2 linked regions of the Homo sapiens genome follow. The protein of the gene in region 1 interacts with the protein of each later gene in a pairwise test. Each region holds a gene or a part of one and is shown in the gene's direction. Other genes may lie near its edges. The genes, in order: FAF2 and UBAC2.

The links.
Region 2: the proteins of FAF2 (region 1) and UBAC2 interact in binary tests that used the Homo sapiens proteins (3 or more experiments, as listed by UniProt).

Annotation. Positions count from the first base shown.
Region 1 is NC_000005.10:176,477,313-176,493,516, forward strand, and holds part of FAF2 (FAS-associated factor 2), read left to right. Parts: intron 1-1,875; coding exon 1,876-1,944; intron 1,945-9,042; coding exon 9,043-9,177; intron 9,178-11,638; coding exon 11,639-11,715; intron 11,716-14,881; coding exon 14,882-15,020; intron 15,021-16,204. UniProt on the Homo sapiens protein: Plays an important role in endoplasmic reticulum-associated degradation (ERAD) that mediates ubiquitin-dependent degradation of misfolded endoplasmic reticulum proteins.
Region 2 is NC_000013.11:99,369,650-99,385,853, forward strand, and holds part of UBAC2 (ubiquitin-associated domain-containing protein 2 isoform 1 precursor), read left to right. Parts: intron 1-15,578; coding exon 15,579-15,686; 3' UTR 15,687-16,204. UniProt on the Homo sapiens protein: Restricts trafficking of FAF2 from the endoplasmic reticulum to lipid droplets.

The DNA of each region.
Region 1 (16,204 bases):
CTGACCTCATGTGATCCGCCCACCTCAGCCTCCCAAAGTGCTGGGATTACAGGCGTGAGCCACCATGCCTGGCCTAGAGTCCAATTCTTAAAGAGAATCCACAGCGAGAAGGAGGAACCCTGGACATCCCAGTCCTTTAGTGGGTTGTAATGTAGGACACTGAAAGTTAAGGGGGTCCTATTAGAAGCCAGAAGGGAATAGGCAAATGTGAAGAGTCCTGTAATGGTCAGGACCTAAAATCCAGACTCAGAACTGTCAAAGCCAGTGGTTCTTAAAGGAACTTTTCTATTTCAGCATTTTAAACATTAACATTTTTTATTGCAAGTTTTTGTACTACATGTGTAATTATAAAAAATGAAAACTTGTATACCTAAAAATCCGAATTTCAGTTTTTGAATTTTGTTTCATTTTTTTAAGCTCTGGAAAAGAAATGCATTCCACATTAAACCCTTCACATTGCACATAAAGGAAACTAAATTCAGAGTTAAAATGTGCCTGTCCGTGGCCATGGGGTGCAGAATTAGGCAAGAACTTCAGTTTTCAGACTCATCAGTCCATACTACTACATTCTTGTCAGGTTGAGATCAGTCTCTTTGCCCTGAAGCTTACTGGTTGTTTAGAGGAGTTTCTTGAGGATAGAGACTACATCTTATTCATTTTCTGTCCCTCCAACATAGTAAGTTAGTGCTGTACAGAATAGGCATGTAGCACACATTTGTCAAATGAAAGGATGGATGGATTAGATGGATGGTTTTGGCTTTTATATTAGACTTTGAAGGAATGCTAGAGTTTAGCTCTGTGGAAATTCTGGGCATGAGATGTATACATGAACTGTTAGATTTGCTGAATATTGGACATCTGAACGGAAATAGTGAGAAAATACTGTAACTGCAGTGGCTCACACCTATAATCCCAGCACTTTGGGAGGCCAAGGCAAGAGGATTGCTTGAGCCCAGGAGTTGGAGACCAGCCTGGGGAATATAGAGAGATCCCGTCTTTACAAAAAACATCCAAAATTTAGCTGGGTGTGGTGGTGCACACCTGCAGTGCCAGCTACTCAGGAGGCTGAGGCGGGAGGATCGCTTCAGTCTGGGAAGTTGAGACTGCAGTGAGCAGTCATTGCGCTATTGCACTCCAAACTGGATGACAGAGCAAGACCCTGTCTCGAAAAAAAAGTGGCGGGGGGTAGGGGGGTCGGTATGTTAGGTTTTACACAGTTCATATTATAAACTAGGTTAATACCAGTATATAAAATGAAATAAGTTAATGAAAGGCATGACGTTTTACAGGAAAGGTGCATTACATCATTATGTAGAGGTTGAGTATTCCTTATCTAAAATGCTTGGAACCACAAGTGTTTCAGATTTGGATTGTTTTGAGAATTTGGAATATTTACGTTTTACTGAATGAGCATCTCAAATCTGAAATGTTCCACTATGCATTTCCTTTGAGACATGTCAGCACTCAAAATGTTTCAAAAAATGTTGGAGCATTTTAGGTTTCAGATTTGGGATGCTCAACCTGTACTATCAACAGAATAGCTGTTTAGCATTAAATAATATTTTGCTTAGCCCACAGGTTGAAAAATCTTTAATTTTTTAAACTTGAATTTGAGAGGAGAATATTGATCTTAGTCAGTACTCCTCTTAATTGAAAGCCTTGAAGTTTTAAAAGGAATTATCATTTTTTTAGTTCTTTACGCATCTAGAACAGTCAGCTGACTGTATAAATTCTGAATCGGTGAAGTTTTACCATACTTTAACACTCACTTTTAACATTTTTTAGTGTATTTTCCTAGCAGTATATGGCGTAAAAATACTCACACGTATACTGTTGGTTTTTCTCTAAGTAACTTGTTTTCATCCTTCTTTTCAGGATCTCACTGGCATCGAATCTATGGATCAGTGTCGCCATACCTTGGAACAGCATAACTGGAACATAGAGGTATAATAGGATGTGTTCTGAGCTTATTTCTTTTTCTCTGGTCTGATTAAGAGTCAAAACCGTATGTTTTTCCATAGCAGGAATCTTTTCAGTAGATTTTTTTCAGAATTATGACTCTAAAAATAAAAGTGCAGGAAGGTAAAGAATGTGAGAAAGTTTATAAAATCATAGAAAAATTTGTGACTAAATCCCTCAATATAGTGCCCCACCCCCTACTGTTTGTTAGTATCTTGTTGGGAAAACAATTGGTTTTTGTATATTTAGTTTTTAACCAGATGTCTTGATGTGAACCTTCTTCTTACATATTTTATAGTTTATTCTTTGGGGTTGTCTAGGTAGTCATGTTCTCTGCAACTCTTCTCCTTGACCATTGAATTAGCAAGAACTTTAAAACACTGTCAGTTGATAATGGTAATAGCATTTTGTCCTCACTATAATGCCTCTGATTTTTTTTTTTTGAGACAAAGTCTCGCTCCGTCTCCCAGGCTAGAGTGCAGTGGCGTGCTCTCAGCTCACTGCAACCTCTGCCTCCCAAGTTCAAGCGATTCTCCTACCTCAGCCCCCTGAGTAGCTGGGATTACAGGCAGACACCACTGCACCCGGCTAATTTGTATTTTTAGTAGAGACGGGGTTTCACCATGTTGCCTAGGCTGGTCTTGAACTCCTGACCTCAGATGATCCGCCCCGCTCAGCCTTCCAAAGTGCTGGGATTACAGGCGTGAGCCACCGCGCCCGGCCATGCCTCTGATTTTTTATTAGCAAGTGTGATGTTAGTTGTTACTTTGAGATAGATCTCCAAGGATGTAAGCTCCCTAAGAGCAGAGATTTTTTTGTTTTGTTTTAACTGCTGTATTCCCAGCATATAACATGGAAATAAATATCTGTTGGTTTTTCCCTTCCATTCTTAGTATATTAATAGTTTATACTGAGTGGATGTTGAATTTTGTCAAAACACCCTCTTGATCCCAAATTACTGTTTTAATTATTATATGCTATTTTAAAAGGGTGCTGGATTCCTAAAAACGTGTTCCCTTTTTTTTTCCAGTTTTTTTTTTTAATAAAATGTATTCCTAATATGATTTCGTTATTCAACACATTTTTGAGCAATTAAACTCTAGGCTCTGGCATTATATTAGTGAACAAAAGTAAGTCCTTACTCTTTTTTAATTTTTTTAAGACGGGGTCTTGCTCTGTCACCTGGGCTGGAATGCATTGGCACAAGCATACCTCACTACAGCCTTTGACTTCTGGGCTCAAGCAATTTTCCTGCCCTAGCCTCCCAAATAGCTGGGACTACAAACATGTAACACCATGCCCAGCTGATTTTTAATTTTTTTGTGGAGACGAGGTCTTGCTGTGTTGCCCAAGCTGGTCTTGAATTCCTGGGCTCAAGCAATCCTCCTGCCTCAGCTTCCCAAAGTACTGGGATTACATGTGTGAGCCACCACATCCAGCCAAGTCCCTACTCTTATGGAACTTAATTCTAGAGAATTTCAGTTTGTAATAAATGACCGGAGGGGAACATCACACACGGGGCCTCTCGGGGGGTGGGGGGCTGGGGGGCTAGGGGAGGGATAGCATTAGGAGAAATACCTAATGTAGATGACGGGTTGATGGGTGCAGCAAACCACCATGGCATGTGTATACCTATGTAACAAACCTGCACATTCCGTACATGTATCCCAGAACTTAAAGTATAATTTAAAAAAATAAATAAATGACAAATGAGATGAGCATAGGAAATGGAACAGAGGATCTGGAGAGTTTTGCTTTTTGTTTTTTTATCTTTATTTATTTTTATTTTTTTGAGATGGAGTTTTGCTCTTGTTGCCCAGGCTGGAGTGCAGTGGTGTGATCTTGGCTCACTGCAACCTCCGCCTCCCGGGTTCAAGCAATTCTCCTGCCTCAGTCTCCTGAGTAGCTGGGATTATAGGTGTGCACCACCACGCCCGGCTAATTTTTTGTATTTTTAGTAGAGACGAGGTTTCACCATATTGGCCAGGCTGGTCTTGATCTCCTGACCTTGTGATCCACCCACCTCCGCCTCCCAAGGTGCTAGGATTACAGGCATGAGCCACCACACCTGGCCTTGTTTTTTTCTTTCTAAGAGACAGGGTTGGGCCGGGCGCGGTGGCTCACGCCTGTAATCCCAGCACTTTGGGAGGCCAAGGCAGGCAGATCACGAGGTCAGGAGAACGAGATCATCCTGGCTAACACAATGAAACCCTGTCTCTACTAAAAATATAAAAAATTAGCCAGGTGTGGTGGTGGGCGCCTGTAGTCCCAGCTACTCGGGAGGCTGAGGCAGGAGAATGACGTGAACTCGGGAGGCAGAGCTTGCAGTGAGCTGAGAACATGCCACTGCACTCCAGCCTGGGGGACAGAGTGAGACTCTGTCTCAAAAAAAAAAAGGGAGAGAGAGAGACAGGGTCTTACTGTGTCACCCAAGCTGGAGTGCAGGTTTGATCATAGCTCACTGCAGTTGAACTCCTGGGCTCAAGCATTCCTCTGACCTCAGCTTCAAGTAGATGGGACTACAGGCCCACGCTACCACACCGGGCCCTAGCGTTCAAGCTCTTGTGTGAATATGTGTTTTCATTTCCTTTGGGTCTATACCTAGGAATGGACTTTGCTGAGTCATATGGTGACACTATGTTTAACCTTTTGAAGAGCTCCCAGACTGTTTTCAAAGTGGTTATACCATTTTAAATTCCCAACAGCGTTGTAGGAAGGTCTGAATTTCTCCACACCCTCACCAACACTTGTTAATATTTGTCTTCTAGATCATACTCACCCTAGTGATCTAGGGTGGTTTTGATTTGCATTTCCCTAGTGGCTAAAATGATGTTGAATATTTTTTCATATTCTTATTGAACATTTGCATATCTTCTTTGCAAAAATGTCTATTCAAGTCCTTTGCCAGTTCTTAAATTTGGTTATCTTTTTCATGTTGAGCTGTGAAAGTTTTTTTTTTTTTTTGAGATGAAGTTTCACTCTGTGGCACAGGCTAGAGTGCAGAGGCGTGATCACGGCTCACTGCAACCTCCACGTCCCAGGTTCAAATAATTTTCCTGCCTCAGCCTCCTGAGTAGCTGGGACTACAGGTGTCCCATGCCCGGCTAATTTTTGTATTTTTAGTAGAGGCGAGGTTTCTCCATGTTGGCCAGGCTGGTGTTGAACTCCTGGCCTCAAGTGATCCACCCGCCTTGGCCTCCCAAATTCCTGGAATTACAGGCGTAAGCACTGCGTCTGGCCAGTTTATGTTTTTTTGAGACAGGATTTCTCTCTGTTGCCCAGGCTGGAGTACAGTGGTACTATTATGGCTAACTGCAGCCTTGACCTCCCAGACTCAAGTGATCCTTTCACTTCAGCCTCCTGAGTAGCTAGGACTACAAGCACACACCACCACATCCAGCTAATATTTTATTTTTTTATTTTTTGTACAGATGGGGTCTCGCTGTATTGACCAGGCTGGTCTTAAACTCCTGGGCTCCAGTGATTCTCCCAGCTTGTCTTCCCAAAGTGTTGGGATTCCAGACGTGAGCCACCATGCCTGGTGCTTATCTGATATTTAATTTGCAAATGTTTTCTCCCTTTCTGCGAGTTATCTTTTTACTCTCTTGATAGTGGTTTGTGGTTTTGTTGTTGTTGTTGTTGTTGTTTGTATTTTTAGTAGTGTTGGCCAGGATGGTCTTGGTCTCTTGACCTTGTGATCCGCCCGCCTCGGCCTCCCAAAGTGCTGGGATTACAGGTGTGAGCCACTGTGCCCGGCCTGTTTTCTTTTTTTTATTTATTTTTATTTATTTTATTTTTTTTGAGAGATGGAGTCTTGGTTTGTTGCCCAGGCTGGAGTGCAGTGGCCTGATCATAGCTCACTGTAACCTTGAAGTCCTGGGCTCAAGAAGCCTTCCTGCCTCAGCCTCCCTGACACCTCAGACTACAGGTACATGCTATCTTGCCGCATTCATGATAGTGTAATTTGATGCAGAAAAGTTTTTCGTTTTGATGAAGTCCAATTTATCTACTTTTTTCTTTTGTCGCGTGTGCTTTTGTTGTCGTATCTAAGATACTTTTGCTTAATCTGAGGTTGGGAAGATTTATACCCTTGTTTTAAGAGTTTTATAATTTCAGCTTTTACATTTAGGTTTTTGATGTATTTGATGTATTTGTAGTTAATTTTTATGTATAGTGTGATCTAGGGGTTAATCCACTTTCTTTTGCATGTGGATATCCAATTATCCCAGCATCATTTGTTGAAAGATTATTCTTTCCTCGTTGAATTGTAAAACTAGGGGACTACCTGATATTAGCCAAATTTCAAAGTTTGAAGCTAGTAATTGAGTTCAGAGGGCACACTGCCCTCCTAAAGACCACCTTCACTTCTGAAACCACCTGCAGTTTCAGAGTGTCGCAAAACCGTCTTCAGATTTGCTAATTCACTAGAACTCACTGAAAGTTGTTATAGTCATGGTTATAGTTTATTATAGGGAACATATAGATTAAAAGCAGCTAAAGGAAGAGACAAATAGGGCAGAGTTGGCCGGGTGTGGTGGCTCACGCCTGTAATCCCAGCCCTTTCGGAGGCCAAGGTGGGTGGATCACGAGGTCGGGAATTTAAGACCATTCTGGCCAACATCGTGAAACCCCATCGCTACTAAAAATACAAAAATTAGCTGTGTGTGGCGGTGCGTGCCTGTAATCCCAGTTACTTGGAGGATGAGGTGGGAGAATTGCTTGAACCTGGGAGGGGGAAGTTGCAGTGAGCCGAGATTGTACCACTGCACTCCAGCCTGGTGACAGAGCTAGACTCCGTCTCAAAAAAAGAAAAAAAAAGAAAAAAAGGGGGCAGAGTCTAAAAGGATTTTGGACATGAAGCTTGCATACTACGCTCCTGCAGAGTCGGGACACATTACCTTCTTGGCATAGATGTATAACAATATGCATGAAGTATAGTAGCCCCCTCCACCCACAGTTTCACATTCTGTGGTTTCAGTTACTAGTAGGCAACTGTGGTTTGAAAATATTAAGTGGAAGATTCCAGAAATAAACAATTCATAAGTTTTAAAATGCATGCTGTTCTGAGAAACATGATGAAATCTCACTCTGTCCCATTCTACCTTACCCGGAACGTGAATTATCCATTTGTCCAGCGTCTCCATACTGTATACAAGACCCACCTGTTAGTCAGTTAGTAGCCGTTATCAGATCAACTGTTGTGCCATTACAGTACTTTTGTTCAGGTTCCCCTATTTTACTTAATATTGGCCCCAAAGCACAGGAGTAGTGATGCTGGCAACTCAGCTATGCTAGAGAGAAGCCAGGAAATGTGTCCTTTAAGTGAAAAGGTTAAAGTTCCTGGCCAGCAGTGGCTCATGCCTGTAATCCCAGCACTTTGGGAGGCCGAGGCAGGTAGATCATGAGGTGAGGAGTTCAAGACCAGCCTGGCCAAGATGGTGAAACCCCGTCTCTACTAAAAATACAAAAATTAGCTGGGCACAGTGGCAGGAGCCTGTAATCCCAGCTACTCGGGAGGCTGAGGCAGGAGAATCGCTTGAACCTGGGGGCGCGGAGGTTGCAGTGAGCTGAGATCATGCCACTGCACTCCAGCCTGGGCAACAGAATAAGACTCCATCTCAAGAAAAAAAAAAAAAAAGGTTAAAGTTCCTGACTTAATGAGGAAATAAAAAAATTATATGCTGAAGTTGCTAAGATCTAGCTTGTGTTTGTGAAATTGTGAAGAAAGAAAAAGAAATTCATAGTAGTTTTATGGTCACACTTCTGCAAAAATTGCAGCCACAGTGCATGATAAGTGCATAGTTAAGATGGAAAAGGCATTTTTTGAGTGGAAGACATGAAGAGAAATAGCTTCCAATGACAGCATTCAAGTTCGGTACTATACATGGTTTCAGGAATCTACTAGAGGTCTTGGAACATATCCCTGTGGATAAGAAGGGACTACTGTATTGCCAACCAGGGAAGCTTCAGTGCTTCCAGAGAATTTATTAGGGCATCATTACATAGGCACGATTGATTTGTTTGGCTGCCCACATGGTTGAACTCAGTCTTCAAGTCAACTGATACCAAGTTGTCCAAAGTTCCCCACCCTAAACCACATGGTTGGTCTTTCTGGCATGGCCGGCTTTCACCCTAAGACTACTGGGTGTTGCAGCTGCAACCTAAAATCTAGTAACAAAGACATGCTTATCAGGTCTGACATAGATTACCTCCCAAAAGGGAAAGATCAGACATCTCTTTGGGTAAGGTCAACTTTTTTTTACTACATTGAGACAAATATCTATTTCAAGGACAGAGTTAAGGAGGGAATGAATTTTTTAAACTGAATATCAGTAGTCTGACAGGAGTTGTATTAGGATCTTTATGTGTGGCCAACTCATTAAATTTTCAGATTAACTCAGAAATATTGTTCCTTTATTTTGCACATGAGGAAACTGAGGCTCATATGTTTTTTTCTTCTTTATTTTTTATTTTTAGAGACAGGGTCTCGTTTCATTGCCCTGGCTGGTCTCGAATTTCTGGTCTCTGGGCTCAAGCAATCCTCTCACCTCAGCCTCCCAAAGTGTTAGGATTACAGGTTTGAGCCACCGCGCCTGACCTGAGGCTCATACATTGAGCAACTTTTCAGAGAGATGGAGCTTGGATCAGACCGAAGTTTCTCTGCTGCAAGCCCCTTCATCAGATGCCACTCATCAGGACTGCTTCACTGCATAACTCCAGGGGTACTGCCTACATTGTATTCTCTGAGGATGGCTTTTCTTGGGATTGTACAGTGAAGCACTTTATATCCCAGCCACCCTAAATAATACATGCCATCTGAATCCAGGCAGTACGCTTGCTGCATAAATGTAGCTTCCAGACAAGTTTCCTCGTCTCCTCTACCATGGATGCATTCTGGAGTGACAACTCCAGTTGCCTCCAAGTACAGCCGGTTAACAGGCCCATGAAGGTGCACTCCTCAGTGACCTTTTGGTGTATTCATGACCATCCTGTTTTGGAATACCACGCAATAGTTGCCTCACCTCTTGTTGTTGGTTGATTTGAGCATCGCTGAAACTCTTGCCACTCCGTTTTCCTTCTCAGGCTGCTGTACAGGACAGATTGAATGAGCAAGAGGGCGTACCTAGTGTTTTCAACCCACCTCCATCACGACCCCTGCAGGTTAATACAGCTGACCACAGGATCTACAGCTATGTTGTCTCAAGACCTCAACCAAGGGCAAGTTATTTCATAGCTGGGATTTCCCCCTTTTTTATTTATAAGTATATCCACTTGGTTATATTGATCTCCCTGTGACAGGAGCAAAACAAATATTTAGAATGTAAACCTGTTAGTTAGACTTGGCCCGTTGGGTGTATTATTTTGCCTTGATTCCTCAAGGAATTGTTACAGAAACTACTCATTTTTTTTTTCTTTTCTTTGCCAGTTATTTGGAGAGTGTTTTCTGCCTCTTAAGTTACAATTTGTTTACTCAAGTTCTTTGTTGCTTCAGTTTACTTAATCTTAAACCAGTTTTGAGGAAGTATATGGAATCTTTGTAGGAGCTTTGGCCACGTCTTTGAAATTAGCCTTGAAGGGCTAGTAGCAAGGAGGTGGTTCACTTAAATTTGACAGACATTTAAGAGTACTCCAATAACCTGGTATCTTGCTACTAGGGATCCAGACATGAATAAAGAGCCAGTCTTCCCATTTCAAATTCAATTTCTCACAGTCTATTGAAGGAAGTCAGATGTGTACACTGATAATGAATTCTAAAGAACTGCTTGGACTTTCTTTTTCTTACCCCTGGGGTTATACTCACCTCTTATACTTTTATACTTGCATTTAGAATCCTAAGAAAACACTCCCTTTAACATTGCAGCAGTTAGAATTTACTCCATCATCAAGCCTTTTTGTGGAGTACTTGATTTTTGTTGTGTTTTGTTCTGTTTGAGACAGGGTCTCACTCTGTCGCCCAGCCTGGAGTGCAGTGGCATGATCTTGGCTCGCTGCAGCCTAGACCTCCCGGGCTCAAGCAGTCCTCCACCTCAGCCTCCTAAGTAGCTGGGACTACAGGTGTGCGCCACCATCCTGGTTAATTTTTGTATTTTTTGTAGAGATGGGGTCTTGCTATGTTGCCCAGGCTGGTCTTGAACTCCTGAGCTCAAGTTATCTGCCCACCTCAGCCTCCCAAAGTGCTGGAATTACAGGCTTGAGGCACTGTGCCTGGCCTACTTGATGTTTTAAAACATGTTTCTAAGTAGTGCTCTGTGGTTTTCTGAAGTACAGTAGCAGATTCCCATGTCAGCCATGGGGCTCCAGAGCTTCCTGGCCACAGACACAGAAAGTGTCTCAGGTTAACACAATGTGACAACTATGAAATGCTTTATAAACTATAGAGCCCTGGATGTATGCTAGTTTTAATAATTAATAACAGCAATAATAATTAGCATTATTACTAAGATAAGCAGCTATATGGGGATTTGTCATTGTGGTTAATATAATTATTTAATGTTTATATACCAATGTCCAAGGTTAGTAATAGTGATTATCTTTCTTGCTATTTCTATATACATTATTTTAGGTTTTTATGTTTGTTTGTTTTGTTTTGGGACAGAATCTCCCTCTGTTGCCCAGGCTGGAGTGCAGTGGTGTGATCTCAGCTCACTGCAACCTCAGCTTCCCAGGTTCAAGCGATTCTCCTGCCTCAGCCTCCTGAGTAGCTGGGATTACAGGCGCCCACCACCGCGTCTGGCTAATTTTTGTATTTTTAGTAGAGACAGGGTTTCACCATGTTGGCCAGGCTGGTCTCAAACTCCTGACCTCAAGTGATCTGCCTGCCTTGGCTTCCCAAATTGCTGGGAGTACAAGTGTGAGCCACCACACCCAGCTAATTTTTGTATTTTTAGTAGAGACAGGGTTTTACCATGTTGACCAGGCTGGTCTCGAACTCCTGACCCCAGGTGATCCATCCGCCTCAGCCTCCCAAAGTGTTGGGATTACAGGCGTGAGCCACCAAGCCTGGCTTATTTCTGTATACCATATTTTGATGTGTAAATCTAAAAAGGAAAGAATGAGTGTGTATCATTTGGGGAACATTAATTTGCAATTGAATTTGACAAGTCTATAAGTAGCTGCCAAAAATAAGTATTAAGGCAGTTTTGGTTTTTATTTGTTTGTTTGTTTTTTTGAGACAGAATCTTGCTCTGCCCCCAGGCTGGAGTTCAGTGGCGCGATCTCAGCTCACTGCAACCTCCGCCTCCTGGGTTTAAGCAATTTTCCTGCCTCAGCCTCCCTGAGTAGCTGGGACTACAGGTGCATGCCACCATGCCTGGCTAATTTTTGTATTTTTAGTAGAGATGGGATTTCACCGTGTTGGCCAGGCTGGTCTCAAACTCCTGACCTCAGGTGATCTGCCCCACTCAGCCTCCCAAAGTGCTGGGATTACAGGCAGGAGATACAGCTCTGGACCTTAAAGCAGATTTAATACAAAAATTCTGCAAAAAAAAATGATAGTAAGATGAAATAAGACCAAAGATGGTGGCACTTAGAAGGATGAGGTGGCCAGGAAGAAGGAACTGTACTTTAGAGGAACAAATCACATGGAAGGACCAAAAAGAGTGAGAAAATCTGACCTAGCCATTTGATAAAATATTAGGGATTGAGAGAATTGTCTCTAACTTTGTTTTTGGACTTTCAGGGGCTGCTTGGATGGGGTTATTACTTGATAATGCTTCCATTCCGGTTTACCTATTACACGATACTTGATATATTTAGGTATGTACCTTTGGATTTATGTATTAGTAGAATAGTAAGACTTTGGAGCTGAAATTTAGGCCAAAATAAGCTTTATGCTCTATCAATGTTGACTTACCAATTTGTCATGAGATGGAATACACTTCCCGAACTGTCTTTTAATACAACATACAAGTATTTTAAATTGTTGAAGCATTGGCAGGCATTGTGAAATGGAATTGTTTTTAAATTAGTCTTACCTTTTGTTTGCAAAAACCAGTCTGACTATATTTATTTGTCTCCCCCTCCCCCCCCCACCATATTTGTCACCTCTACACTTCCTAGTTGATGTCCACACCCTTTCCTTTCTAACCACTATCATCTCCTAGCTTCACACTCCTTAGAACTTTCTTCCTCAACTACTTCTCCTCCACCTGACTACTCACAATCCCAACAAATTCTCTTGCTCTGAGATTACCCAGTTTGCCCTTGATTCCTCCCACAATAGTTGGACCTCCCTAGACACTCCTGTTACACCTTTTCTTTCTTTTTCTTTCTTTTTTTGAAACAGAGTCTTGCTCTGTCGCTGTCACCCAGGCTAGAGTGCAGTGCCACCATCTCGACTCACTGCAACCTTCACCTCCTGGGTTCAAGCGATTCTCATACCTCAGCCTCCCAGATAGCTGGGATTACAAGCATGCGCCACCACGCCTGGCTAATTTTTGTATTTTTAGTAGAGACAGTAGAGATGGAGTCTCATTTTGTTGGCCAGGCTGATCTTGAGCTCCCGGCCTCAAGTGATCCACCTGCCTTGGCCTCCCGAAGTGCTGGGATTGCTGGCATGAGCCACCATGCCTGGCAGCTTCGGTACCTTTTCACTTTGCTCTGGCAGCCCCTAGGTTGCAAACACTGGAACCCTTTTATGTATATACCCACTTGCTTCATACCTTCACCTTTCTTCTAGCTTCCTTCATGTACCATTAAAAGAGCTCATCATTGGAAGCTACAGAGGGTCCAAGGCCAGAAAATGAGTGGGGCTCAACTGGCCGGGCTCTGTGGCTCACGCCTGTAATCCCAGCACTTTGGGAGGCTGAGGTGGGCGGATCACAACGTCAGGAGATCAAGACCATCCTGGCTAATACGGTGAAACCCTGTCTCTACTAAAAATACAAAAAATTAGCCGGGCGCGGTGGCTGGTGCCTGTAGTCCCAACTACTCAGGAGGCTGAGGCAGGAGAATGGCGTGAACCCGGGAGGCGGAGCTTGCAGTGAGCCTAGATCGCACCACTGCACTCCAGCCTGGGTGAGAGAGTGGGACTCCGTCTCAAAAAAAAAAAAAAGAAAAAGAAAAGAAAATGAGTGGGGCACAACTTCTTAGCATGTCAGGCTTGGGTTATCTGGTCCAGAGCCATGTCTAGGCTTTATGGGGAACTTAAATGTTCAAGGGCATCCAGGCCAGCAGATGGAGCTGGGATATGTAGTCTGGGCCTTCCCTGGAAGTACAGGTTCCCTGTACTTCCCTTCAAATATGGGACAGCCTTTACCCTGCCTCTAGGGAGCAGAGGCTGAAGTTGTGGGTCCAGCAGCTGCATAAGTACAAGGGTCAGATAGTACCTTTTATATTGGACCCTTGGTGTTTTATGAGGCTGTCTACTTAATGGCTTTCTTGGTTTAGCAACATTCTTCATGATCACTAATTGCTTAGTACTCTTTCCATCCCCATTTTATTTAAGAATGAACATGTAAAAATCTTTAAAATCATAATGAAAACTAAGTTGACATCTCTGTTTTTTTCTAAAAAATCAAAAAAGCTGATTGTCCTAAATTGTGTAGATCGTGGGAATATTGTGTAATGAGGAAAAAAAAATAAAGGCTTTAAGAGAGAATTCTAAAATGCTTAATTTCAAAGAAAGTAGTTAAAACATCAGTCTTCTGATGAATTTCTAACCATTCCCCCACGTATACAACTTACTACATTTTGTGCTTTTAATTCGCTCTGGAACGTTGTTGTCAATGAATTTGGTTTGATTACTCGGGAGAAATTCCAAGTAGAATTGTATACACAGGGGGAATTTGTTGGGATAATGAATTGACTCACTTTTTGTTAAGGAAAAGTATCACAGTTTAATCACCTTGTCTGTGCTGAAAACGTTTTAAGTAAATGAATATTGTTTGCTTTTCTAGGGAAAATATGCACGGCATGTATTACTAATTTTAATGCAGCTGTATCATCCAACCAGCTTGTTTAATGTTAGGTAACACATTATCCTCTGTCCTGTTGCCTTCTCTGGAAACCCAAAGGATAAATAAATGGTACTATACAAATAGGGTAGGCCCTTTAGAAACAGATGTGTGGTACCATTAGGTATGTATTCTTCACTTTACAAGAGCTGCCAGTACTCCACATCTGCCAGGGTACTGTGGAGCAGTTTTATAACTTCCTCCATGGTTGCCATCAACCATAAATCATCAAGCAAAAGGTACTTGCCCCTTTGAAGAGCAAGTAAGTCATAACCGCAACTTCAGATTTGAAGTTCCTATCCGTAAGTTGAATAGTTTGGGGTTGTGAACTCAATATTTAAAATCCCAGGAAAACAGAAAGGAGAAGGAGGGGCAAGTAGGACAACCAGAAAATGACCTCTGTTCTAGAGCACTGTCCAGTAGAACTCTCTGTGATGATAGAAACGTTCTGTATCTCCGCTGTTCAGTATGAAAGCCATTAAACACGTGGCTGTTGAGCACTTGAAATGTGGCTAGCATTACTAAGGAACTGAATTTTAATTGTATGTAATAGATTTAAATTCAGAATAGCCACATTTGACTAGTGGCTACAGTACTTAGACGGTGCCATTCTAGAGAGTCTGGGTGCATAGCCTGACACATGATCTTTTTGGATACTGTGTCTTCCCTTCCAAACCCTTCTAGCCCTAAATTGTTCTACAAAAAATACTCAGGATTTATGTAGGCCAGTGTTGGAATTTATAATCCCAGTAGTTTGCATTCTTCCTGAACAGGCAATAGAATAACACTTGCTGCTTTATGGCTTTTGAACCAGACTCTACTCTCGGATTTGATGGTCCACTCACAGACTGTTCACCTCCCTTTGTTGCCGTGCCTCTGGCTCTGTTACAGGAATCTGTACAAATTGGCCCACTCGATATGCACTGTAGTAAGCTGGATTCATGTGATATTTATTCCTTCCTCCCCAGGTTTGCTCTTCGTTTTATACGGCCTGACCCTCGCAGCCGGGTCACTGACCCCGTTGGGGACATTGTTTCATTTATGCACTCTTTTGAAGAGAAATATGGGAGGGCACACCCTGTCTTCTACCAGGGAACGTACAGCCAGGTCAGTGCCATAAACCATATAGATGCCAACTTACCGAAATGATTCTATCCTCAAAGGAGAGCACAGCCCAGCACTGATCATGTCCTTCTTGTACTCAAAAACCTTAATTAGCTCTTCACTGCTTATAGGGGTGGGTAATAAAAAAGACCAAACCTTTTAGCTGGCCCCTCTTTGATCTAATGCTGCCCTTCTTTTGAGGTCTTTTCTGCATAACTTATTTTACCATACCCTCAGTTCCAGCTGACTCATTCCCTGAACATAGTCTGTACTTGCCTACCTCTGTGCCTTTGCTTTTGCCGGTCCATCCACGTGGAATGCCTTCCTCACATTTTTGCTAATTGGAATCTTGCCAGTCCTTCAACTAGATTATGTCACGCCCCACTTACAGCTATCCCTGATTGTTGTGCCCTGTCCTGCCCTATCTCATCATCTAGAATACTAATCTTTCCCTTTGTTCTTCCATAGCTTTTAAAAATTGATAGCAATTTTATATTCTTTCCTATATCATTTGTGTTCGTGTCTAATCTCTGCTACCAGACTGAAAGCCCCTTGAAGGCAAAGCCTACATCTTCTTTGATCTCTCACAGAATTGAATAAGGACATAGACCATAGACTCAGGGTAGCACATCTCATTCAACCTCAGCCATGTAGACCTTTGACTCAAGACCTCACCATTCAGGGGAGGAAAAATTAGAGTTCTGTGGGTGTTTGGTATATCTCTAGTTTGCCAGAGAAATACATAGAATTAACACTACAGGAATAGGGAAAACTATGGGAATGCTGTGGCAATAGGCAAAAGGGGGTTCTATTATGCAGCCTCCAGAATTCCTGAATCTATCTGGAGAAAGAAAAATGCTCACCCTTGCTTCCTGCTTTCATTTTCCCACATCTGCTTTTTATCATAGTCAGTCTCCTCGCTGGCTGTTCCCACCACACTCAACAAAAACTGAGCACCTACTGTATGCCAGGCAATGTCCTCAGTGCTAGAGATACAGAGATGAGTGAGATGAGCACCTCCTGTGTACCCTCTCTGCTATGATCCTGAGGGTAGACCACCCTTGACCATGTCAGCAGTCGTACAGTGTAATGTGCTCAGGAGCACGCACATGCAGGAGCACGCACAGGAGTCTTCGGCGCTAGCCTTGTCTTTGAAAGTCTTTTACACCCTATGCTCTTTAGAATGC
Region 2 (16,204 bases), on another chromosome or scaffold:
TTGAGGAGCGCTTGTAATCTCAAAGTATCCCTCCACAAGTTACTTACTAATTATAAAGGAAAACCGTAATTCTACAGAAGAGAAATTGGACACCACCTTAACCAGGTTATCAAAATTAACATCACCAATTATGGAACAAAGAATTATTATGTTCATATCCTGAAAAGGACCTATCAGTTATGTCCTTGTAACATATGCAGTTACAATCAACATGCATAACTTTGATCGTAAGGGAAAATAAGATAAACTTAATTTGAGGGACATTCTGTAAAATACCTGGTCTATGTTCTTCAAAAATACGATGTTCCAGATTAAAGGAGACTTGGGAGTCATGCTGCCCAAGTGGAAAATGTGATCCTGGACTGGATTTTGTACTGGAGAAAAAATGTCTGATGAAAGGCCATTTTAGGATCAATTGATGAAATTGGACTATGGATTGGATATTGGTATTATATGAATTTTACATTTCCAGGACTTGGTACATACCGACCGTGGTTAGGAAAGAGAATATTCTTGTTCTTAGAAAATACACACTGAAGTATGAAGGAAAACGGCACCATGATGTGTGCAACCTGCTCTCAAATGGCTTAGGAATAATACCTGTGCATGTCAGTACATAGTGTGTGATTGTGTGTATGTGTGACAGAGACAGAGAGAGAAAGCAGCTATGGCCAAATAACAATTGGTGAATCTGGTTAAGGAGGAATCAAGAGTTCCAGGTACTATTCTAGAAACTTTTCTAAGTTTGAAATTATTTCAAACTACAACCTTTTCAAAATCTATAAAAGAAAGTTAAGAGTGTTGCCATCATAATACTTTGAAGTTTCCCTCTGCCTGTTGTTTTTCCCTTTCAGCAAACAAAACAAATTGAGATCAGCATTTCACAGCTGACCACACCATCCACGCCATCGCCTCCCCATTCCCTGTCCCCAGAGTGAACAAATGCCACGCACCTGCCTCTGTAGCAAAACTTTGTCCTCATTTTTCCCAAAACTCAAAAGGTGCCCCTGGGCAGGGATCTCATAGCCACCCATGGGTAAGGCTGTGACAGGTGTTTTCAAGAGAAACCACTGTCACGTGCCCATTGACTTGATCCAGCCCCTCCCGCTTGCCACTTCTCCACTCAGACTGATGGTTTCAGCAGCTCTTCAGGATTAACAGGTGGAGTATGGAGCCACAGTTTTCCTCTTCTACCTCCACTAGAGAATTTCTAGACAAAGGTTATCCCCATGGATAAGAAAAGCCCAATAACCTGCCATGTGTAAAATCTTCCTATAACATGTTTAAAAAATAAGATACTGCTGTCAAGTTCAGCTGAAAAGAAATATCAAAATTCCGTTATGTTACTGTTTACTTGATACAGCAGTGAGTCACATCCCTCATGGGGCAGCCGTTAAGACGAGGTATTTAAAGGTGATATATTTCTCAGTTTGGGCACTTCAGGAAAAAAAAAGTGTCAAAAAGGGAGTGAAAGGAGTATGTGTGTGATTGAAGTCTTCAGGGTTGTTTTTTTTTTTGTTTAATGAGTCATTTTTCCTTGATCATCCCAGAATGACAACAGCGAGGTTACTTCTTGTCAACATCAGTTTAAAACAGTACTTAATTTCTTCCTCGCTCCGTGTTACGAGAAGTTGTAAAAACATGAGGGGTTGTTTTTAACATACACTTTCTTATACATTGATTTTCTAAATCTTGTTTTTGGTGTTTCTTGATTATCCTGCAAATAGCTGTTATAAACCATTGTTGCCTTAAAGATGCAAGGTTCTTACTGGCATTATTCATTCTGCAGGCTCTTGGTGTTCTTTGCAGTGGGTACTATAGAGATTATAAAAGATAAAAAAGATACTGTTGTTGCCCTCAAGATGCTTACAAAAAAGTTTATAAATTTATATTGTATAATCTCTTGGCCAGTTTGTTTAACCACTGTCTAAAATATTTGTTAATAACATGTTAAGATAACTTGAATTAACAAAAGCTTTTTTTGCTTACTTTTTCAATTAAATGTTTGTATTTTCTTCATTTAAATATCAGAGCCACGTAATTTTAATGCATTAAGAAACTTAGTAATTTTTTAAGCCAAGAAAAATAGAAATTATTATTTGAGTTTTTTCTGCTGTAAACAGATACTTTAGGAATTTAGTGAGAGTTCAAGAAAACCTGGTAGACATGAAATGTATGCCATGTACTTTGAAAGCAGAATATTCTAAGAAGAATGTGCATCCTTTAATAAATCCAATAGTAGTTTGATAGCCATAGAAATCTTTTGCCACCTTTTCTACTTTTGCTATTTTTGCTGTTATTAAGATTCAAGATTTTTAGTTCTTCAGAATCCACTCCCGTTTTTTGGTGAGTAAACCCACGGCACCTCTGCCAATTCATCACCCCTCAGAGATGCCACCCCAGCCCCATTTAAGAATATCCCAAGAAGGAGGCTGCTGTGCAGGCAGGCGGTGGGAGGCTGCAGAGTGCCAAGCCACACAGTGCGCCCTGTGCTGCCTGGCCTGCTAGCTAGACAGTCAGGATGGCAACAGCGATCCCCGGAAACCACAAGGCGAGATGTCTGCTCATGCCTTCCCTGTGCAGACGTGCGGGGAGGAAGATCAGAAGAAAACCCCACAAGTTCCTATCAATTTCACAGAACTTTCCAAGTGCTCTTAGAGTTGAAAGATAATGTCTGGGGAAAGAGAAGTCTAAATCTGATGAAAGGACAAAGGTGGATAAAGTAGGCTGTGGGGGGAAAATGAAGGATGATGGACCAGCTAAGGGAGGCAAGGAGAAGGCCCCTAATGCCCCCCAAAGACCACTGCCTGTTCTGTTCAGGATCCCCAGCATCAAATCCATAGACCCTGGGATTGCTTTTGGAGATGGGTAGACAAGCTTGGTGAGCTGTGGAATCAGTGACCGTGAGAAGCAGCCTTAGGACACCAAGGTGGGGAAGCTGCTGGAGAAAGACAGGTGGCGTCACCGGCTCTGAGTCTAAAGGGAAAATGGGTGGCAAGAAGGTCCTGCCAGGGTTGCCCAGAGAAAGGTAGACAAGAAAGAGGAGGAGGAGGAAGAAGAAGATAAATAGAAACTGTTTGTCAACAACAACAGCAAAAATGCCAAGCCAAAGACCACTTGATAAAACTCCTTCGAGTAATCAAATACGCTCAATGTCTGCTATCTTAGAAATAAGTGTATCCAGGCCGGGCGCGGTGGCCCACACCTGTGATCCCAGCACTTTGGGAGGCTGAGGCGGACGGATCACGAGGTCAGGAGATCGAGACCATCCCGGCTAGCATGGTGAAACCCTGTCCCTACTAAAAAATAAAAAAATAAAAATTAGCCGGGCATGGTGACGGGCGCCTGTAGTCCCACCTACTTGGGAGGCTGAGGACAGGAGAATGGTGTGAACCCGAGAGGCAGAGCTTGCAGTGAGCTGAGATCACGCCACTGCACTCCAGCCTGGGTGACAGAGCAAGACTCTGTCTCAAAATAATAATAATAAGTATATCCATTATTCCATCTCTCTCTTTTTTATTGTTTTTTTTTTTTTTTTTAAACAGGTATCTTTATACTACTATGACCCATACTCAAAATTAACAAATGATTAAATTTTTCTCATATTTGCTTCTGATTTTTTTAAAACCAAAGGGGGAAAAACTCATCAAGTGTATCTCTTCTGACCCTCCCAAAGCTTAGAAAATGACTGTTAGGTAAAATCAGACAAGAAAGTTAAATAAGACTAGACCAAAGCTGGGATTTAACAAAAGGAAGATGAGCAAATTTCAGCTTCCTCTCTTCGATTCATGTCTTTCTTTCCTTTAGCTGACAGTGACCAGCTGTCTGCTCTGCACCGGGGCTAAGCGCTGTGCTGAATTCTGAAAACACTAAGATGGATAAGGCGGAATGTCCTGCCCTGAGGAGCTGTGAGCCCAGGGCAGGGAAACAGGTGGACAAAGAGCTTGTGGAAGTGTTCGGGTGCTGCTGAGGCCAAGAAAGGCCGTCAGGGCAGTGGTGTTGCAGAGGAGGGGCCTGAAGACAAGTACATGGGAGGTGGGGAGCCACGGATGGGTGGGCTGGAGTAGAGGGGACTGGAGGGCCGGGGCACTTCTTGGGATTCTAGAAGCTGGACAGAAAGGAGGCCAGACAGGCTCGCCAAGGGTCTGATGTGTGGCATGTGGTTATACTCTAGACACCAAGGAACCATGCGGGATCTTACACAAGAAACACCATCATTGGGTTTCCCAAGAGGATGGACTGGACACAGAGGAGGGGGCAGGTTATAATCTTATAATTTTCTCTATCCAGGCCCAGGAAACATGGTGCAACTGCCCAGACAAGAGATGTTACCATTTGGTGCATTAATATTAATAATACATTTATAATGCATGTCAAACGACAGAATTACAGCAAATTTAGTGACAGATCTATTTGGCTTTTATTTGCAACTTATGAATTAGTGCAGCCTCCATTCTACAAAACAGAATGTGAGCTCCCGCCAGGCAGTACTGGAACAGTGCATTTTGTAAGAAGGAAACAGAGCAATAGAAAAATAACTGATAGGTTAACATTGAGTTACTTCAGGTTGCTTTTTTTTTAAGGGTTAAAGCAGAGGGGAGTTCCTTATTATGCTGACTTGTGTAGTCTGGGATCTCCTATTTTTAGAAAAAGCAGGTCTTCTTGTTTTGGGATCTGTCTGCTTCCTTAAAGTTTCAATTTGATTGTGTGGCATTTAGCATGAGTGACTCCATTTAGTTTGGTCTTCTGGTTTGTTGGAGCCCAAAACAATGGCGTCCCATAATTTTGGTCAATTCACATGACACGTCGTGTGGATTCTGTTTATGTCTCTGAGATATCCATTAGCCCAAGTAGAGAGAATGGCTTTAAACCCACAAGGTGCTTTCACTCTTAGCTGATAAATAGCAAAATGTATTTAGTATTAGAGAATCTAAATCTTAATGAGGCTGTCTCCTCTCTTCTCATCTCAGGAATCCTTACCACTGTCTCCAGAAAACCCACCGAAACTCCTAAAATGCTCACCTTCTGAAAGCAGGGCTCTAATATTTATTGGTTTTGAGACACATCTCGTGCTTCTGCTCTGAGTAGCCAAGCATGGCAGCACATTGGGTATTGGGTTAGCCTCCCATGGCGTCTGGTCTCCCTGTGGACAGCGAGCTTCCTGAGGGCTGGGGCCATGTCTGCCTTGTTTGCTACCCTATGAAAAGCCTGATACACACAGGTGCCCCAGCATCGGTCGGAGAAGGGTTGAACACGAAGGTGTGGCCAGTAAACTTCCCTTTCAGAACTCTTGTTTTCACATAAAAAATGTGCTAGAGAGTGGTATTATGCCAGGTTTTTCCATTGCTTGCTCTAGTAGATTGGAAATACGTTTTCTAACAAGATCCCAAAGTTAGATGTGTTACAATGAAATACTAGATGGTACTCAAATAGTAACCAACTTTTGTGGGGTGTCTCATTCTGCTGGGTGCTCTGAGAGATGTACACAAAGGAGCTCAGCCAGCCTTAACTAAAGACCTGCTCCATACAAGACCCTGACGAGGCTCTAGACACAGTTGGTCTCAGAGCAGCCCAGAACGCTGGCAGGGTCTGTAATAACCAGAAACCTGAGTTCAACCAAGAGATGTGAAAGGAGGGGGGATCTGCAGTTCTCCCAAGGAAGAGAGTGGTCAGACAGGGAGAGGGGGGTGGGGGCTGCACTGCCTTGCAAGGGTCTCGGCCATGCGTCAGCATGGGGGTGGGCAGCTGGTGCCAACAGGTAACCGGTGCCAGTTGCTATGACAGCAGTGGGCGAGGCAGGCCCAGCACATCTGGGCTCCCCCAACAGGGTGTGCATGCTACCCTGCACCCAGTGTGAGCTCAGGATCGGGTGGGGGCCGTCTTCAGGTGGGCATCGCTTTCTGCAAGCGTCAGAATATGGGAAGTAAAAACCCAAAAAAAACATTTGTTTTTGACGCACTTAGCTAAAAGGGAAGTTAAAGAAAACCACACTCTAGTTTGAATAAACCAAAAGGAGTCTTTCACTGAGGGGAGTTGCTAGAAATCTCATTGGAATGAATGTCCCATTTTACTTATGTCAAAGAGGAGTTGAATTGCAAGTAAAATACCAAAGTGGGATTTCATTTATTTTCTTTTCTCTTTTCCTTTTTCCCTTTTTTTTTTTTTTTTTTTTGAGACATGGTCTTGCTCTGTATCCCAAGCTGGAGTGCAGTGGTGCTATCATGGCTCACCGCAACCTCGACCTCCTGGGTTCAAGCCATCCTCCCAACTCTGCCTCCTGAGTAACTGGGACTACAGGCACATGCCACCAAGCCCAGCTAATTTTTTTTTTTTTTTTTTTTGGTAGAGACAAGGGTTGCCCAGGCTGGCATTTTCTTAAATGAGAATTATCTTGAGGTAGTAGGCACACACATCCCAATCATAGATGTTTAAAAATAAAAAATAAGGAAAGAGAAACTGGTACAGATTTATTTCCATCTCTAGGGTGTTTTCCTCATTCAGTGGGTTCTCTGAAAAGCACATTATTAGGGAATGTATTCCATCTTGCTCTCCTTTGGAACATTGTCAGGTGACAGTGACAGTGCTCTTGTGGCAACGCCTATTTCTGTCATGCTCCCCTGCCTTGGTCAGCCAGCCATGTGGAAGTGTCACACCAGGGCTGGTGAAGGGCTGCTGACGCCTGTGGTTCAGAAGCTCGTGACGAAAGGCAACTGATGGAGTCACACCTTGCTCCACTGGGGCACCCTGGACACCTCCAAGAGGGTCTTCATCCCTGTGGGGGCTCTGGTGGGGCACCCTGGACACCTCCAGAGTGGGTCTTCATCCCCGTGAGGGCGGAGCTGGAGTTTGCCATTGCCACAGCACCAGCTGCACCTTGGTGTCCTCTGAGTAGCCTTATCTCTGCTCCTCACCTCTGGAAGTCAGGTTTCCTGTTACGGAAAGCAGGCTCTGGATGTTACATTTGGGGAATGTTAGTGTCTAGAAATAAGAAATAAGTAGATGTGGAAGACAGGAAAGCAAAGCATGCTGGAGGCGAACCCAACTAGAGCTGGCTTCTCAATGAAGTTAGAGGAAGGAATCATTTCGATTTGGGGGCTAGAAACCAAGCTGCACTCTAATCTGATATTTTGTGGTGAGGATTTTTAGGCAGAAACTTCTTGTGATGCCTGAGCAGGAGGAAGGTACTCGCTGTGCTCTGAGATGGAGAGGGAATGTTGAAAGAACACCTTTTTAGAAAATTTCTTTGAGACATTTTTAAAATTTTCCAGACCAATGAATGACTGCAAGCCCATGAAGCCAACACTGACGAAGTTGCAGTATGCAGCGCCGTGCCTCGCCTCGCCTCGCCTCACCATTGCCTCCACTCACGCCAGAACAAGTGTCTATCCTAGCACAGTCTTTTCCAGAGTCTCAGTGTCCTACCAGCATTCTCATTTTGTCCTCCACATGTTTATTGGTCACTTTTGATCTTCACATTCAGCCTTCTCTAACTGGTGCTGGGCACCGGGTGTGTCAGGCTCTGTGTTGGGGGGAAGCAAGCCAGGCCTGGTGCCAGCCCTCAAGGGAGCTCACCGTCTATGAGGGAGACCAGATCCATGCAAGGCCCTAACCCAGTACCCAACTCATGCAAGTACCTAGTGCCAGTCCTTAGAGCAGAGGAGACCTGTAAACATTCATTCCTGTACTTTAACAACTTGACATCAGGAGATTTTACATTGAAACTTTCTCTTCCTGTGGATGTTAGATCGGATCAGGTGCTCATGGTGAGTTCTGATGCTTCTCATCCCAGTAGCTGGACTACAGAGACAGGAAGCAGCCTGCAGAGAAAATGAAGTAGTCCAGGGTTTCAGTGTGAGTTAATGTGTGTTGTGGCTAAAATGTGGTGCTTTCGATAGGGAGAGAGATGGGCTGACCATCTATAATACCATTATTTATATAGTCATCAGAGTTGTGTATTTGCTAAACTTTATAAATACATAAAGTGTATTTTAGAACAACACAGTCTTTTTGTTAGAATGTTATGCTCACCATTTAAAAAGATTGTTCCTGTCTTTCTGACTTCTTTAGGGCCCACCACACACCTGGCCCCGCTGCCCTCCATAGGAGAATAGTGGTCCTGAGAGGTCATGTTTATTGAGCGCTGGTCATGTGCCCGTCACTGTTCTGGGCTTCTCACATGCATCCCTCTCATCTCCCAAACTGCGAGGAAACAGAGAGTCAGAGCCTGGTCCCCTGCATGTGGTCACACGGGGCCAACTCCAAAGCTCGGGTCTCCCTGCCACCCTGCGCTGGAGTCAGACCTAAGACAGCATGCAGCTTCCCCTGCATTTTTATTTCACGGAAGCATGAACCTGGTTTTCTGTCCCTACAAGTTGAGTATCCCTTATCCAAAATGCATGCTGCTCTAGTCCTTCAGTAAGCCCATCACATATTTTCTCTGTGTCGTCTGTAGACACTTTTTCTGCAGCGTTAGCATCATCTCCATCATCACTGTTGTCACAGTCACCTTGACTCAGAACCATCTCAGCTATTTCACCATGGGTCAGTTAATGAACAGCTGGAGCCCCCTTATCGATATTAAAAACTTCAATATCTGGCTGGGCTCAGTGGCTCATGCCTGTAATTCCAGCAAGTTGGGAGGCCGAGGTGGGCAGATCACTTGAGGTCAGGAGTTCGAGACCAGCCTGGCCAACATAGTGAAACCCCATCTCTACTAAAAACACAAAAATTAGCCAGGCATGGTGGCACATGCCTGTAGTCCCAGCTACTTGGGAGGCTGAGGCAGGAGAATGGCTTGAACCCAGGAGGTGGAGGTTGCAGTGAGCCGAGATCACATCACTGCACTCCAACCTGGGTGACTGAGCAAGACTCTGTCTCAAAAATAAAATAAAAAATAAAAACTTCAATATCCACTTCTTCTGGCTTACTGACAGACTCGAAGGTATATTTTTTACCTGTTAGGAGGTCAGGCATCATTTTATCCTCATTTGACATGTGGAATCCTTCAAAGTCACCACCTTGTTCGTCATCATCACTGAACATAGCACAGGCCAGAGGTTGTGTCAGGCTTGCATAGCTGTGTTCTCAGTCACTGTGTTCCATGCATTGGCAACAGCATGTGTGGCATCCTTCACGCTAAACGCCTGTTGAAAATCTTCCATACCCATTCATTTGTTGCTAGCATGTTGTTCAAGAAGGTACTTTTATATTTATCCTTCATTGATCTAAGAATACCTTGGCCACATGGCTGAATTAATGGAGTCACATTTGGGGAAAAGTACATGGCATAAACATGATTTTTGATGAGATGTCAGCTGGAGGATGAACAGAAAAGTTGTCAAGGTATAACAAAATATTTCAGTCATCATCCAGCCCAGCTTCCCTGCAGTGAGCACAAGCCACAGGTCCAAAATGTTTGTGAGACCAATCAGAAAAGATATCCCTAGTTAAACATGCCTTTTTGTTAGCATAATAATGGTCTGGTAAGAAATTCGCTGCTTGAAAACAGCAAGGACACAAACTTTTGCCTGTCATGCAAGTTTACGCTTATGCATGCCTGCTGCATTAGCACATCCCAGCAAAGTTGTTCTGCCCTTGATGTCCTCAGTTCCTGGAGGGGCTGTCTCATTAGCTGTAGTTGTGTCTTTCTGGAGCAATAAAACCAAAACAGTGATGTTCCATCAGCATTATAGACTTGTTCTGGCATCAGATTTTTGTCAGCAATGACCTTGGCAAACTCACCAATGAATTTCTTTGCTGCTTCATGATGCTTTGTCACCACATTAAAAAATTTGGTTTCATGTTTTTTCTTAAATTTCTGCAGCCAACATGTTGAATATTCATAGTTCCTTTTCATTTTCAGTTCCTCATCCTGATAGATCCTTGCTTGTTTCCTGACCCACATAGCATTAAGTGGCAGGTGTTCACTGCAACACCAAGGGATCCATCCTCGGTACATGATCAGGATCTTCATTTTTAGCTTTATGCAGTGTTTCTCTATTTTTCATTAATTTCTGTTTATCACTTTTAGCACAGAACTTCAACAGTTTATCCTTCTGTTTCTTCAGATCCTATATGGTGGTCACTCCAACACCATACTCTCCTGTAAGACGTTTCACACTTACACTGCTCTCCACTTTCTCCAACAGCTTGACTTTCTGTGCTATAGATAAACATAAATCTTTTTCTTATCACTGTTACCCAGAGGGTATCTGCACACCTTTTAGATATTTTAACAACATTTTTATAACACAGAGCAGAAAGTAAGCAAAAAAGCACAGTGAGTGACGCACGTGGGTTTTGGCCCCATGCAGGTCATTGTGGGGAACCTGCCCACTGGCATGTGCTTGCGTGGGGGAGTCGGGGCATGTGCAGAAAAGGCATGTCACAGCTGAAGGAGGGTGAGAGGGTCTCTTTTCCCTTGGAGACACTGAATAAACTACATGTTGTGGCCTGCATTTTGACTGCAGCCCATCACATGAGGTCAGGTGTGGAACTTGCCATTTGTACTGCCATGTTGGTACTCAAAAAGTTTCAAATTCTGGAGCATTTTCGATTTTGAATTTTCAGATTAGGAATGCTTAACGTGTGTTTTGCTTACCTGACTGCACGTCTGCGCAGGCCTCAATTTCGTCTTTCTGTAATTTGAGCACAGGAGTTGATGCTTCACATGCCGAGTAAGCTTTCCCAGGAGAGACCGTAATGAGATGTGTGGGGACTGGGCGTGCTGGGCTTCTCTGAGCAGAGGAATAGTGAGAGCCACAGCAGTAATTGTTAGTGTCCACCAAAGAGCCCTACAGACAACTGTTCTCTGTGCTGCTAGTTTTTGCTCCAGTTCTTACTGTCTATATGGTGAACCTCTGAAACTACATAAAGAAAGGACAGCAGGGGCCACTTGGCTAACTTGCACGGCTGTGAGCACTGCACTGCACCCCTCCACTGGGGAGTATTGGGTAAGCACCCATCGGAACACCTATCCCCTGACCCTTCTCGTCCTTGCTGGCTGGTTGTCATCGCATACCCAAGCCCAAGCATGCAGTTTCAGTTTGCCATGGATGTTTAGTTTTGGACACTATGGGAAACCTTCAGGTGCCCTTTCTTAGTGTAATTGTTTATTCTTTTTAAAGAACTGTGCTAACATTATTGCTACTTAGCAATAGTTTTTAATCTGGTGAAAATAACAGGTCAGTGGGCAGTGAAAGTTCTCCTGTCACACTTGTCTTCTCACCCATAAAAATCACTTAAAGCTCTGAAGCCAGCTTTGGCTAAAGGGGCATGATCTGCCCCGCAGAGGATGAAGAGCGAGCCCGCTGCAAGCTGTGACAGCAGACGCTCTCTTCTGCCAAGACCTGTGAAAAGCCAGTCTTAGTTGTCAAAACCAGCACCGCGGCACATGTCGTTCATGTCTGAGAGAATGAACTCAGAAGGAAGTCTCGTGTACATAGAAAGCTTTCGTTCTTACTCTAGGATGTCACCTACGTGACTTACAACCCAGCCCAGCCATCCCAGACCTAAGGGGTTCTTCCCTCTCCAGGGCAGGGCCTGCATGCAGTCCATGCTGCTGCCCTGTGTTGGTGACCTGTGTGTAGCCAGCCCATTATCAGCATCCTGTGGATTCCAAACCAAATGTATCATCAGTGGAGGGAGAGCTCAAGTGCCAGGTGGAGCTGTGGCCTAAAGTCACACTTCATCACTCCAGATTATGAATCGTCATTTGCCAGATCTCCAAATTGCTGAGTGTGGACAGCAAATGGATTCGTTTGTGCTGGCTGGGTGCAAAGAAGCAGCCAGTCCTCAGCTGCACTTGAAGTACTACAGGTAGTAGTAAAGGTAGCTTTTCCAAGCCGTTTAAATAAACGTCATTAAGAGTGGCCAAGTTGTTTGGGGGCCATGGCATCATGGTGGTGGATAGTAGGTGGAAGGAAGGCAGGCCAGCTCCCGTTTGGCCTGAGTTATCTCCACCAATGACAATGGTCCTTAACTGGAGGGAACATCATACAGGTTATTTCCACCCAAGATTGGAAAGACCACCTTGATCAGAGAGAGTTTTCCTTCCACATGACACATATCCAGCCTGAGTCCTCCAGCCCCTCTCCCTGCACAACCTGATGGAGGCTTGAGAAAGCACAGGGAGGAACACTTAGCTTGAAAATGTTCCTAAGGAAAAGGAAAGTGTGAATTCTGAGAACCAAGTGGCAGAATTGAAGTTTCACATCTGGCAAAAGCTTAAACAGATTATTATCAAATAGATGGTTTGTGAACGTTGAAAAGACAGCTGTGGTCTAGGACACCAAACCAATCCTGTTGGCAAGAGATCACCAAGACCTTTGACAACATCTCATCAGCTTATGAGAGATGTTGGTGACATGCAGAATGGATAATGATAGTGCAATGAAGTGGGTTTGAAACTGATTAAAAATGTTGATTAACCCCTTGAACACAGAGTTCTGGGCTCTTTGACCTGACGTGTTTGACATTTTCATCAATAATAACTTGAACAAAGTTGTAGAGGTTTACTAATCAAATTTAGGCATGATACAAGTTTGAGGGAGATGATTAACAGTAGATAACAAAATGAGAATTGAAAATAATTCATTTTGGTTGACTGGAAAATGATCAGATGGAATTTAACAGAGATATGTAGAGTCCTAGACTTAAAAGGTCAGGTAGGATTTGAGAGACCTGACTTGACAGCATTTTATGTGAAAATTCCTGAGTGTTTTCAGCAGGCCCAGCTTAACTGGCCACACCAGTGATGCAGCTCCTTACACAAGTGCATGCACAGGCACACACAACACATATGCACACTACTAATGCATTCCTCTGCTCTCATTGAAGCTAAGGGCCCAGACTGTTGGAGGGCAGTGGCCTCACTGCCCTGGTGAGACCACACCCGTGGTGTCACACTCAGTTCTGGGCGCGGTGTTCTGAGACGGTGTGCACAAATGGGAGGGGATGGGCTGAAAGGAACTGGATCCTGAAACACAGGAATGAGCAAAGGCAGCCACAGCCCTCATACTGGGAGTTCACAGTGGTGGGGAGAAGCTATCACCCCACAGACACAGCTGCAGGGAGCCCAGGACAGAAGGCAGTGGGGCAATGAGGACTTCGCTCTGGGGGCCTTCTAGTCTGGGAGACATGGAAAAAGGCAGGGGCCCCAAGACCCACCAGGGGAAGAGGAGTCATCAGGCTCAGGGCAGAGGGCAGAGACAGCAACACAGCAGAACAAGCCACGGTACCCACAGGCCTGGGTGGGGGCCGAGAAAAGCCAGTGGGTTGAGGGAGGAAGGAGAGGGCTGTCACACCCGCAAAGTGCTTTATGTAGGAAAAGAGAATAGGGTTGTTCTCGGTTACTTCAAAGGGCAAAATCAAGAGCTGTGGCATTGTGTGGATGGCAGCTTGTGAGGGGCAGAACACCAGGGTGGCAGCATTCTCAGCCACCTGGCAGTGAGGCCAGGGCACTCAGCCACAGCTGATGTGCATATGATGCATTAGTAGTGTGCATGTGTGTGTGTGTGCCTGTGCACGCTCTTGTGTAAGGAGCTGCATCACTGGTGTGGCCAGTTAAGCTGGGCCTGCTGAAAACACTCAGGAATTTTCACATAAAATGCTCTCGAGTCAGGTCTCTCAAATCCTGCCTGACCTTTTAAGTCTAGGACAGTACATATCTCTGTTAAATTCCATCTGATCATTTTCCAGCCAACCAAATGAATTCTTTTCAATTCTAGTTTTGTTAGCTACTGTTTTTTGTTTTTTGTTTTTTTTATCTACGACACTCTCTCCTCTGGTGGGAAAACAAACTAGAAGGTTTCTGCCTTTGCTCTACGCTGTCCACCAGCCCTGGGCAGCTGAGCATGAATCACCTGAGGGCGCCATAGTGTCCCAGGTGCTGGGCATCTTGCTGCTCCAGGACAGCCCTCCCCACCGCAAGGCATTTGGAAGACACCTGGCAGCCCTTCTTGGCTTCCTAGCCAGGGCTGTGCGTCAGTCCCCGTGCTAAGGGTTGAAAGCAACGTTCCGGGGAGGAGCACGCTCACTGCGTGCATTTGTAAGCCTAGTCCTCACCCACTGAGTGGTCCCATGACATGGGCGGCACCCCCCGTTTGGAAAAGCCCTGGCTGGACTCCAGCTTCTGAGCAGTGTCCACTGCGTGTCCCTGTTGGCCCTCAACTCTTCCCTAAGGCTTTTGGGGGAGGAGGGTCTGGGTGTCTGGGCCTGGGTGGTCACTGGGAGGTTCCCTCCCCCACCTGCCTCTCTACTCTCTGCACCTTCTTCCTCACCTTGCTGAGTCCTTAGGTTAATTTTGCTCAGAATATCCAGAGTTAGCCACTAGGCTGCGGGTGAAGTGGGATAGAGAGGAAGAACAGCAGGCTTTCTGGAGCCACATGCCCAGGCCCATGCCCGGCCCCTCCTCCAGCCACCCCATGCCATAGTCCCCATTCACACCCACTGAGTCCCCTGAGCAGAGGAAGGGGTGGTGATACTGGGCCCCTTCTCTTTCCACCATGTAGCACCAAGTAGCTCGCTCTCTTTCGGAAAGAAAAATTGGAAACTCTGACTAAGTCCTCAGGTGAACCCACAAAAGCCTCTTTAATGCGCAAGTGGCTAAAAAACTCAACATGTACAAGACTGTTGACTTTGATGAGGTGTTACTGCAAGTGCAGTTTATTTTAATATAAGTACAAAAAAAATGTATTCCTGTGGCAATCTGGGGCCATGAATATTTTTGTAATATATTCTTAATTGGGAAAAAAGGTTGCAAATAAGCTTTAGTAACATTGCCAATTTCAATACTGGAGACTGCCTGTAGAGAAAAGTACAGGAAATCTCCGTATTCACAGAATCAGGATTTGTGGTCAAAAACAATGCATGCTTGTTCCTCCCTGCTTCTGGTGGCTTTCACTGCCTCCTTCCTCAGTTGCTGCCCCAGGCTCAGCCCCACTTTGCTGCCTGCGTAAGCCCCAGGCTGCAAGTGGCACAGCTGTCAAAGTAGTCTGAGCACCCAAAGGCAGGCAGTTCTGTGGCAGTGACGCCAGGAGTGCGATGCCAGGGCCGAGCATGGCAGTGACGCCAGGAGTGTGATGCCAGGGCTGAGCGTGGCAGTGACGCCAGGAGTGTGATGCCAGGGCTGAGCGTGGCAGTGACGCCAGGAGTGTGATGCCAGGGCCGAGCGTGGCAGTGATGCCAGGAGTGCGATGCCAGGGCTGAGCATGGGTCACCACCATAGGGAATCAAACGACGCTGAGTCGTGTGTCCTCGCAGTGAGCCTGGGCAGCTCATGCCGACCTGCTTCCAAGGCCTGGTCCCAGTAGGCCACTTTACCCTCAGAAGCCCTGTGTCCTTGTCTGTAGAATGAGGGTTATGTGCGATCATGCATATATATTGGCTACACATAGTGAACATTGAAAAATTTGTACCTGGTATAACTTTTAAGTATCAGATTCCATATTGAAATGAAAATTGGTTTTTTTGTAAACAGTTTTGACCTTTGCCACAAGGCTCACATGAAGAACATTTGGGGCCCAGGGATAAGCGGCAATGTCAGCGCCCTCAGGTTTCTGCGTTTTCTCTGCCTGCAGGTCGCCCGGCTCATGGAGATGGGATTTTCCAGAGGTGATGCTTTGGAAGCCCTGAGAGCTTCAAACAATGACCTCAATGTCGCCACCAACTTCCTGCTGCAGCACTGATAGTCCCAGGCCAACACTGGGACCGGACCGGCAGCCGAGTGACAGTGCGTGGTCCCCACCATCAGATCAGCCCGGGGACCGAGCATCTCTGGTGCTGATGTTCTTGTGGGAAGAGGGAGGTTCCACCGCACCCCTGCCCTCAACCGCAAGACTGTTGCCGTTTTAGTGTGGAGATAAGTTTGCCATTACATTAGCATGTATTTTCTATCTATATTTTTTATTGGGCATTTTCCCTAGGTTGGAGAGTCAGCACTCGTTTTGAATGTGTTTAAAATGCATTAAAATGGAAGATTTCTGCAGGCAGTTGAATGGCACTCCAGATGGGGAATTGCTGTAACCCTCTTACTGTAACATGTCATCTCCTGCGTCGTGATGGGGAGAGGGTAATGTTACTTCACAAAGGACATGTCAGATCCTTCTTCATGGACTTTTTTAGTTACTGTTTTTTCTCTCAAACTTGTTTTCGAATCTCCTGGGAGTGAGGGAGAAACAGGGAGCTGAATCCTCCCCCAAGCTGT